Homo sapiens: one gene and its partner. The protein of the gene in region 2 purifies or fractionates together with the protein of the main gene of each other region. This does not show direct contact. Each region holds a gene or a part of one and is shown on either strand. Other genes may lie near its edges.

Evidence for each region. The genes of interacting proteins can lie anywhere in the genome.
Region 1: the proteins of C14orf39 (region 2) and PSMA8 purify together in Homo sapiens (affinity purification with western blotting, with the first as the bait; one study listed by BioGRID). This does not show direct contact.

The regions. Positions count from the first base shown.
Region 1 is NC_000018.10:26,189,333-26,192,986, reverse strand, and holds part of PSMA8 (proteasome subunit alpha-type 8), read right to left. Parts: intron 669-3,654; coding exon 576-668; 3' UTR 1-575. UniProt on the Homo sapiens protein: Component of the spermatoproteasome, a proteasome specifically found in testis that promotes acetylation-dependent degradation of histones, thereby participating actively to the exchange of histones during spermatogenesis.
Region 2 is NC_000014.9:60,476,043-60,479,696, reverse strand, and holds part of C14orf39 (protein SIX6OS1), read left to right. Parts: intron 1-1,307; coding exon 1,308-1,397; exon of another isoform or gene 1,398-1,402; intron 1,403-3,654. UniProt on the Homo sapiens protein: Meiotic protein that localizes to the central element of the synaptonemal complex and is required for chromosome synapsis during meiotic recombination. Required for the appropriate processing of intermediate recombination nodules before crossover formation.

The DNA of each region.
Region 1 (3,654 bases), on a different chromosome or scaffold from region 2:
ATATTGCAACTTGTAAAATGAAAAAGGTAAAATAAAAATAACGAAATATTGTAAAATGAAAAAGGTAAAATAAAAATAACAAAATATTGTAAAATGAAGAAGGCTCTGACAAAATTTTAAGAACTCATCAGTATAAGGATGCTTTTGTCATTCTTTGAGAAATGCAGCTCAATATTATATTTAGTTTATTTGGAATAGCTATGTCCTTAACTGACAGTCAATATTCAAACATCACCAAATTATTAAATTTTTTTAATTAAAAAATTTTTTAAAATTATATTTGCATATATGAAGGTAAGTAAGACACTGGACAAATTATAGAGTCTCAGGCTTATGTGGAATTATGACTGCTCTCAACAATTACTGAAATCCCCTTTCAAAGAAAATCTTCACATAAACCTATGTTTGACTATGTAATAGAATGAAGACAGCCACAGATCTGGCATTCTCAAAACATCACACAAGTACTGCATGTAATGCTGCAAAATAACTGTTTTCCTCTAAAATTTCACTAAACAACCTCAGGCAGTACAATAAAACAAAACATTAAGACCTCCCAGTGGTCATCCTAAGAATTAGACAGATTTCTTTGATTTTTTCTTCTCTGCTTCTTCCTTTTCCTTTTCTATTTCAGTTACATATAATTCAACTTCTTTTGCACTAAACATCTGAAAAGAGAAAAAAATTTAAAGATCAAATGTCAGTTATACGAATAATATGTAAATACAATATGAAGAATTCCAATATTTAATAAATTTATACTTTCTATGTACAACTTTATATTTTGTAACTTCAAATATACAATGAAGCATTTCAAGAGGTCTAAGAGCAATAACAATTATGGGCAAAACCAGATCTCTGACATTTCTACTATCACTGTGCTAAAAAAGAAAGCAGGACAAAAGGTGATATTGCGTTATATATCCTATATGTGCATATAACTCCAAAAACATTTTAATGCGAGGCTTAATTTTATTCATGAACAAAGACTCATTATTTAACTCTCCCAACTGCACCCTACTGTGTGATTCTCTGATAGGGTTTAATAATTTGATCAGTTTATAGAATAGCGAAATGAAATGGGAAAAGATAATTTATGCTACTTTATGTCTAAGTAGAAAGCAAAAAAGGTTTTATTTTTCTAAGAATTTGCAGTGTAGTTTGATTTTCTGTTGTACTGTTCACAAGTAGATCCAAGGTTACATGCTTGCGGCTATAAGACAGCAATTATTGGCCAAACCTGGTGACTCAGGCCTGTAATCCCAGCACTTTGGGAGGCCGAGGTGGGTGGATCAGTTGAGGTCAGGGGTTCGAGACCAGGCTGCCATTTTCTTTTTCTTTTTTTTTCAGACAGGGTCTCACCCTGTCGCCCAGGCTGGACTGCAGTGATGTGATTGCAACCTCTGCTGCCGGGTTCAAGCGATTCTCCCACCTCAGTCTCCTCAGTAGCTGGGACTACAGGTGTGTGCTACCACGCCTGACTGATTTTTGTTATTTTTAGTAGAGAGATTTGCATTTTCAGTACAGACAGGGTTTTGCCATGTTGGCCAGGCTGGTCTTGAACTCCTGACCTCAAGTGATCTGCCCGCCTCAGCCTCCCAAAGTGCTGGGATTACAGGCCTGAGCCACCGTGCCTGGCCAAGACAGCAATTATTAACTTCAGTGAAGTTAATACATTTATATACAAAAATCTAAATATAATGATCTTAATACTGAAAAGAGGTATCTATTAAATTGATAAATGAATGATCAACTTTATGGAAAGGCAAATTTTCAAAGATATTAGAGATGTAAAGGATTTTAGCTATTAGTCCATCACTAGAATTTACATATAAGAAAACATAGATTCACAAAGCTAAATTATATTTGGCCAAAGATTAAAGAAGGATTAAAGATTAGGTCTCTGATTCTTATTTCAACTCCAGAACTCTTTCCATTTCACCTATAAAGATGTGTGTCACAAAATCTGTATTTGTCAATAATCTACATAAAATATATTATTTGAACGTTTTATGAAATGAATTTACCCATCAAGCAATTACTAGGAGTTCCATGGGCTCTGAAAGTGGAAGAATATAATTCTTACCTGCTATTAAGGAGTCCACAGTTTAGTGGAAAAAAACTGGCATATAAATAGATCATTACAATACAAACCTGAATAAAGTGATGTGGTATTACTTGGGGAAGAAATAATTTCCTCCTTTGAAAAAGTGTCTTTCACTTTCTTTTTCCTTTTTGAGACCGGGTCTTGCTCTGCTGCCTACAGCTGAAGCACAGCGGCATGATCACAGCTCACTGCAACCTCTGCCTCCTGGGCTCAAGCCATCCTACCGCCTCAGCAACCGGAGTAGCTGGGGCTACAGATGTGAACCACCATGCCCAGCTAACTTTTGTATTTTTTGTAGAGACGGGGTTTCGCCATGTTGCCCAGGCTGGTCTCAAACTCCTGGGCTCAATCGATTTGCCTGTCTCGGCCTCCCAAAATGCTGGGATTACAGGCATGAGCCACTGCGCCCAGCCTCAAGAAGCCTTTTCAAAAAATTATTTTTAATTTTTATGAGTACATAGTAGGTATATATATTATGGGGTACATGAGATATTTTGATACAGGCATGTGATGCATAATAACCACATCATGGAGAATGGGGTATCCATCCCCTCAAGCATTTATCCTTTGTGTTACAAAAAATCCAATTATACTCTTTTAGTTATCTTAAAATGTACAATTAAATTGTTATTGACTATAGTTACCCTGTTGTGTTATCAAATACTAGGTCTTATAAATTCTATTTTTTTGTACCTATTAACCATCCCCACCTGCCCCTGCCCCCCACTACCCTTCCCAGCCTCTAGTAACCATCCTTCTACTCTGTATCTCCATGAGTTCAATTGTTTTGATTTTTAGATTCCACAAATGAGTAAAAACATGCAATGTCTGTCTTTCCATGCCTGCCTTATTTAACATAATGATCTCCAGTTCCATCCATGTTATTACAAATGACAGTATCTCATTATTTTTTTGGGGGCAGAACAGTACTTCATTGTGTGTAAGTATCACATTGTCTTCGTACATTCATCTGTTGATGGACCCTAAGGTTGCTTCCAAATCTTGGCTATTGTGAACAGTTCTGCAATTAACATGGGAGTGCAGCTATTTCTTCAATATACTGATTTCCTTTCTTTTGGGTATACACCCAGTAGTGGGATTGCTGGACCATATGTACTTTTATTTTATGTTTTTTGAGGAATCTCCAAACTATTCTTCATGGTGGTTGTACTAATTTACATTCCCACCAACAGTGTATGAGGGTTCCCTTTTCTCCATATCCTCACCAGCATTTGCTGTAGCTTGTCTATTAGATATAAGCCATTTTAACTGGGGTGAGATGATATTTTATTGTAGTTTTGATTTGCATTTCTCTGATGATCAATGATGTTGATCACCTTTTTTTTGGAGATGGGGTCTTGCTCTGTTGCCCAGGATGGAGTACAGTGGCACAATCATGGCTCACTGCAGCCTTGACCTCCCAGGTTCAAGTGATCCTCCCACCTCAGCTTCCCAAGTAGCTGGGACCACAGGAGCACACCACCACATCAGGCTAATTTTTAAATTATTATATTTGTAGAGACAAGGTCTCACTGTGTTGTCCAGGC
Region 2 (3,654 bases):
TAAAAAACAATATTCATAATATTAAGCTAATTTAGTAATTGTATATTTATATATAATTACAAAAAGTCTAGAAGGATGTACATCAAAAGGCTTATAGTGAATGCCTTCTCAATGAACATGTATGTTTTATGGAATTTTAAAATAATTCCAATTTTTATTTTAGATTCAGGGGCACTTGTGCAAGTTTATGAGATAGTTATATTGTGTAATGCAGAGGTTTGGGGTACAACTGATCCCATCACCCAGGTAGCGAGAGCATAGTACTCAATAGTTTTTCACCTCTTCCCCCTCTACTAGTTTCCAGTGTCTACTGTTGCTATCTTTATGACCATGAGTATTTATGACATTTAAAAATATTGAGAATATATGTATGTATAATTTTTGATCTTCTAATTTCATTTTGGAGAATATTTTCTAAGGAAATGATCAGAAATTCAGATATATTTAAGTACAAGTTCTGTTACTAAGTGATAAAGGAGGATAAGCTCTCAATGATGTTAAAATGTATAATTATAGTAACATCTGGAAACAATTTATTAAAACAATAATAGTCATTATTCAATATTGAGAATATGATTAATAGTTATTTTCTTACACATACTTTTCTGTGCTTCCAAATTGGGCATGTATACTTTTTGAATCTGAAAAAAAAGTTAGAAAAAAGGCAATATTTGAAAAATACTTACACTGGAAGCCGCCATGGTATATATTAATTTTATATTTTTTTGTATTGGTAATATTCTTTCAAGTTACATAATAAAAAATGTATAAGATGAATATTTGTTATATTCCTATTGTCTGATTTTGTAATTCATTTGCTCTGGTTTCTCTTTTTTTTGTAATTCAGGATGATGTGACACCTGTTTTCTAAGTGTTAAAGGAGCAAAAAAACCTCTCTTTAGCCCTTATTCTAGTTCTTTGAATGCTTACTCCAAAAGAATTTTTTTGACCAAAATCTTAGAAATGTAATGAGAAAGAAAGGCTGATATTGGAGTGTTACAGAGTGTATAATAGAAATGCAATAGCAATACACAATCCAGCCATGTCACATTTGCTCCTTCCCTAGTAATGGTTCAAAAACAAGTTTAATATAAAAATTCATGAATATTGATATTCGAGCATAATAGTCCTTGAATGGAGGTAGTGGGAGTGATATGAGATGGAAATACTTTTCTTGATGTAAGCTTGTTTTCTCCAGGAAGAGAAAGATTCGTTTCTCTTTAAATAATTATGTTCTTTTTTTTATTATCTCTATCAATTTGTTTATCATTCTGAGTTGCTAATTACAAATATATTTTTTTCTATAGCTGGAAGCCAACATGTGATGTTTTTCGTAAACATGAAGATTATATGCAGGACCAATTTACTGTTTATCAAGGAACTGTTGAAAAAGACAAGTATAGTACTTATATGAAGTTTATCAATTCTATAAGTTTGTATTATTAGGACATGGTGTGTAAGAATGTCAGTTGAAAAATGTAGACATTTTGTACTCAAGGAGTTTCTTTTTTTTTTTTTGAGATGGAGTCTCGCTCTGTCCCCCAGGCTGGAGTGCAGTGGCATGATCTTGGCTCACTGCAAGCTCTGCCTCCCGGGTTCACGCCATTCTTTTGCCTCAGCCTCCCAAGTAGCTGGGACTACAGGCGCCCGCCACCGCACCCGGCTAATTTTGTGTATTTTTAGTAGAGACGGGGTTTCACCATGTTAGCCAGGATGGTCTCGATCTCCTGACCTCGTGATCTGCCCGCCTCGGCCTTCCAAAGTGCTGGGATTACAGGCATGACCCACCATGCCCAGCCAGGAGTTTTTGTTTTTAAGTAAATGTAGTGTTTTGGACTCCTTGGGTGCAGTGGAACATCTACCTACTTGTTGTAAAGCTCTCTCTAATCCTAGATATATTTAGATATGGCCTTAGATATAAACTGTTTCTCAGTGGCAATTATTATAGCAGAGTCCATCAATTAATGGTCTTTATGAGTGAACTGTTTAGGCAAACATCTCGGGGAATAGTTACCTGTAGAATTAGCTTATAACAAATTTGGGATATTGATTTCTGAATGGTATTTTATATCAAACTTCTGTTTTTTAGACAGCTGATTTAATGGAGTGGTTATATTCTAATAGAGAAACACCAATAATTGTATGAATTTATTTTATTATATGTATAATCACATTGTCTTGGGGATTAAATATAATTAGTGAATGTAATGAAACAAGACAAGAGACTTTGAACACATTATATAGCATAAAAATTTCACCTAATATAAGACATTGAAATGTTTTTATTTTTAATATAATTGGATGAGAACAGTATCTATTTTTATATTGTAACTAAAACGTGCAAAATCTAGAATGCAATACTCTATATATTCAAAGACAAGTCTTAAGAAAAGGTAGGGACTAAAGTTATAGATATAGACTTCATTTTGAAATCATGGAAATACATGAGATTGCCCATGGAAATGTATGGAGCAAAAAGAGGAGAAAGCTGGAGTACGCCATCATCTAGAGGGTAGGCAGAGGGTGGGATCAGTGAAGGAGACTTGTCTTGTCATTTATACATCCTGCTTCATTTAAAAAAGAATTTTAGATGATTTGACTAAATAATCATCTTGAAAGGATAGTGTTTAAAGAAACTAGATTAAAAATCAAGGCTGCAGGGAAGTAAGGAAAATATAGGAAGTTGAAGCCTTTGATGAAGTTAGAAATTCATACTATGTATCCCGCACATTTGTTAGATATAGGCACGAATTAAGCTTTCAAATTCCTAGTAGTCAAGGCATTGTGGAAATATAATCAGTGTGGGATTCATAATATTCATTTAAAAAAACAGGTCAATTGCTTAGGATAAGTAGAGGCTTTTCCTGAGGTTTGAGAGAAATTTCTCCTCTGGGTCCTCTAAAGGGGAAATTGTGCAGTGTGCTTCAGTGACCTCCCCCAGCCCCAAACACAGTATATATAACTGCTTCTTATAGCATCTGTCAATGTAAGTCATGACTATAAAACATTAATTCTTAAAAATGATTCTGTGAGAGGCTAAAGCAAACCAGTTAAAATATGTACTTCTCTAACAGTGTTTGTTATAGAGGACTTCTGTGAGCTAACTGAAGGTATTAAAGTGAAAACAGTTGTCTGTTTCTTTCTTAAACCAGCTACATAGCTTAATTGAATTGATGCTTCAATACCAGGCATTTATAAATGGAAAATAACTCATTTGTTGGTTTCATGGATAATGGAGGAAGTAGAGGCACCAATTACTTGTTTCTCCTAATCTCCCATCCCTGTTCAAGTCATTCATGAAAAACAGTATTGCTGGCTTAGATGAGATAATAATGGCTCTTGTTTAACTATGACTTAGCTATGCTAGGCTCTGCCAGAGTTTCTATATGGAGTATGTTAGAAGAGTGAGCATGAATATACAGTATGAATAGGGTGGATGTGGCATAGTCATCTCACCTGGAACTGGTGACCCAGGCTTAATTTTCTTATAGGTATTTCTTCCCTGGACCATTTTTCCCAAGCGATTAAATAGTAAGTGGGTCTTAATTAGCAAATATGCGTTTAGAGGAATAGGAGCTTGTTTGGGGCTCAACTGCTTTTCCTTGCTAAAGGGGACAGTTTAGTAATATTCAGAAATTAAAACTTTCTTAAGAT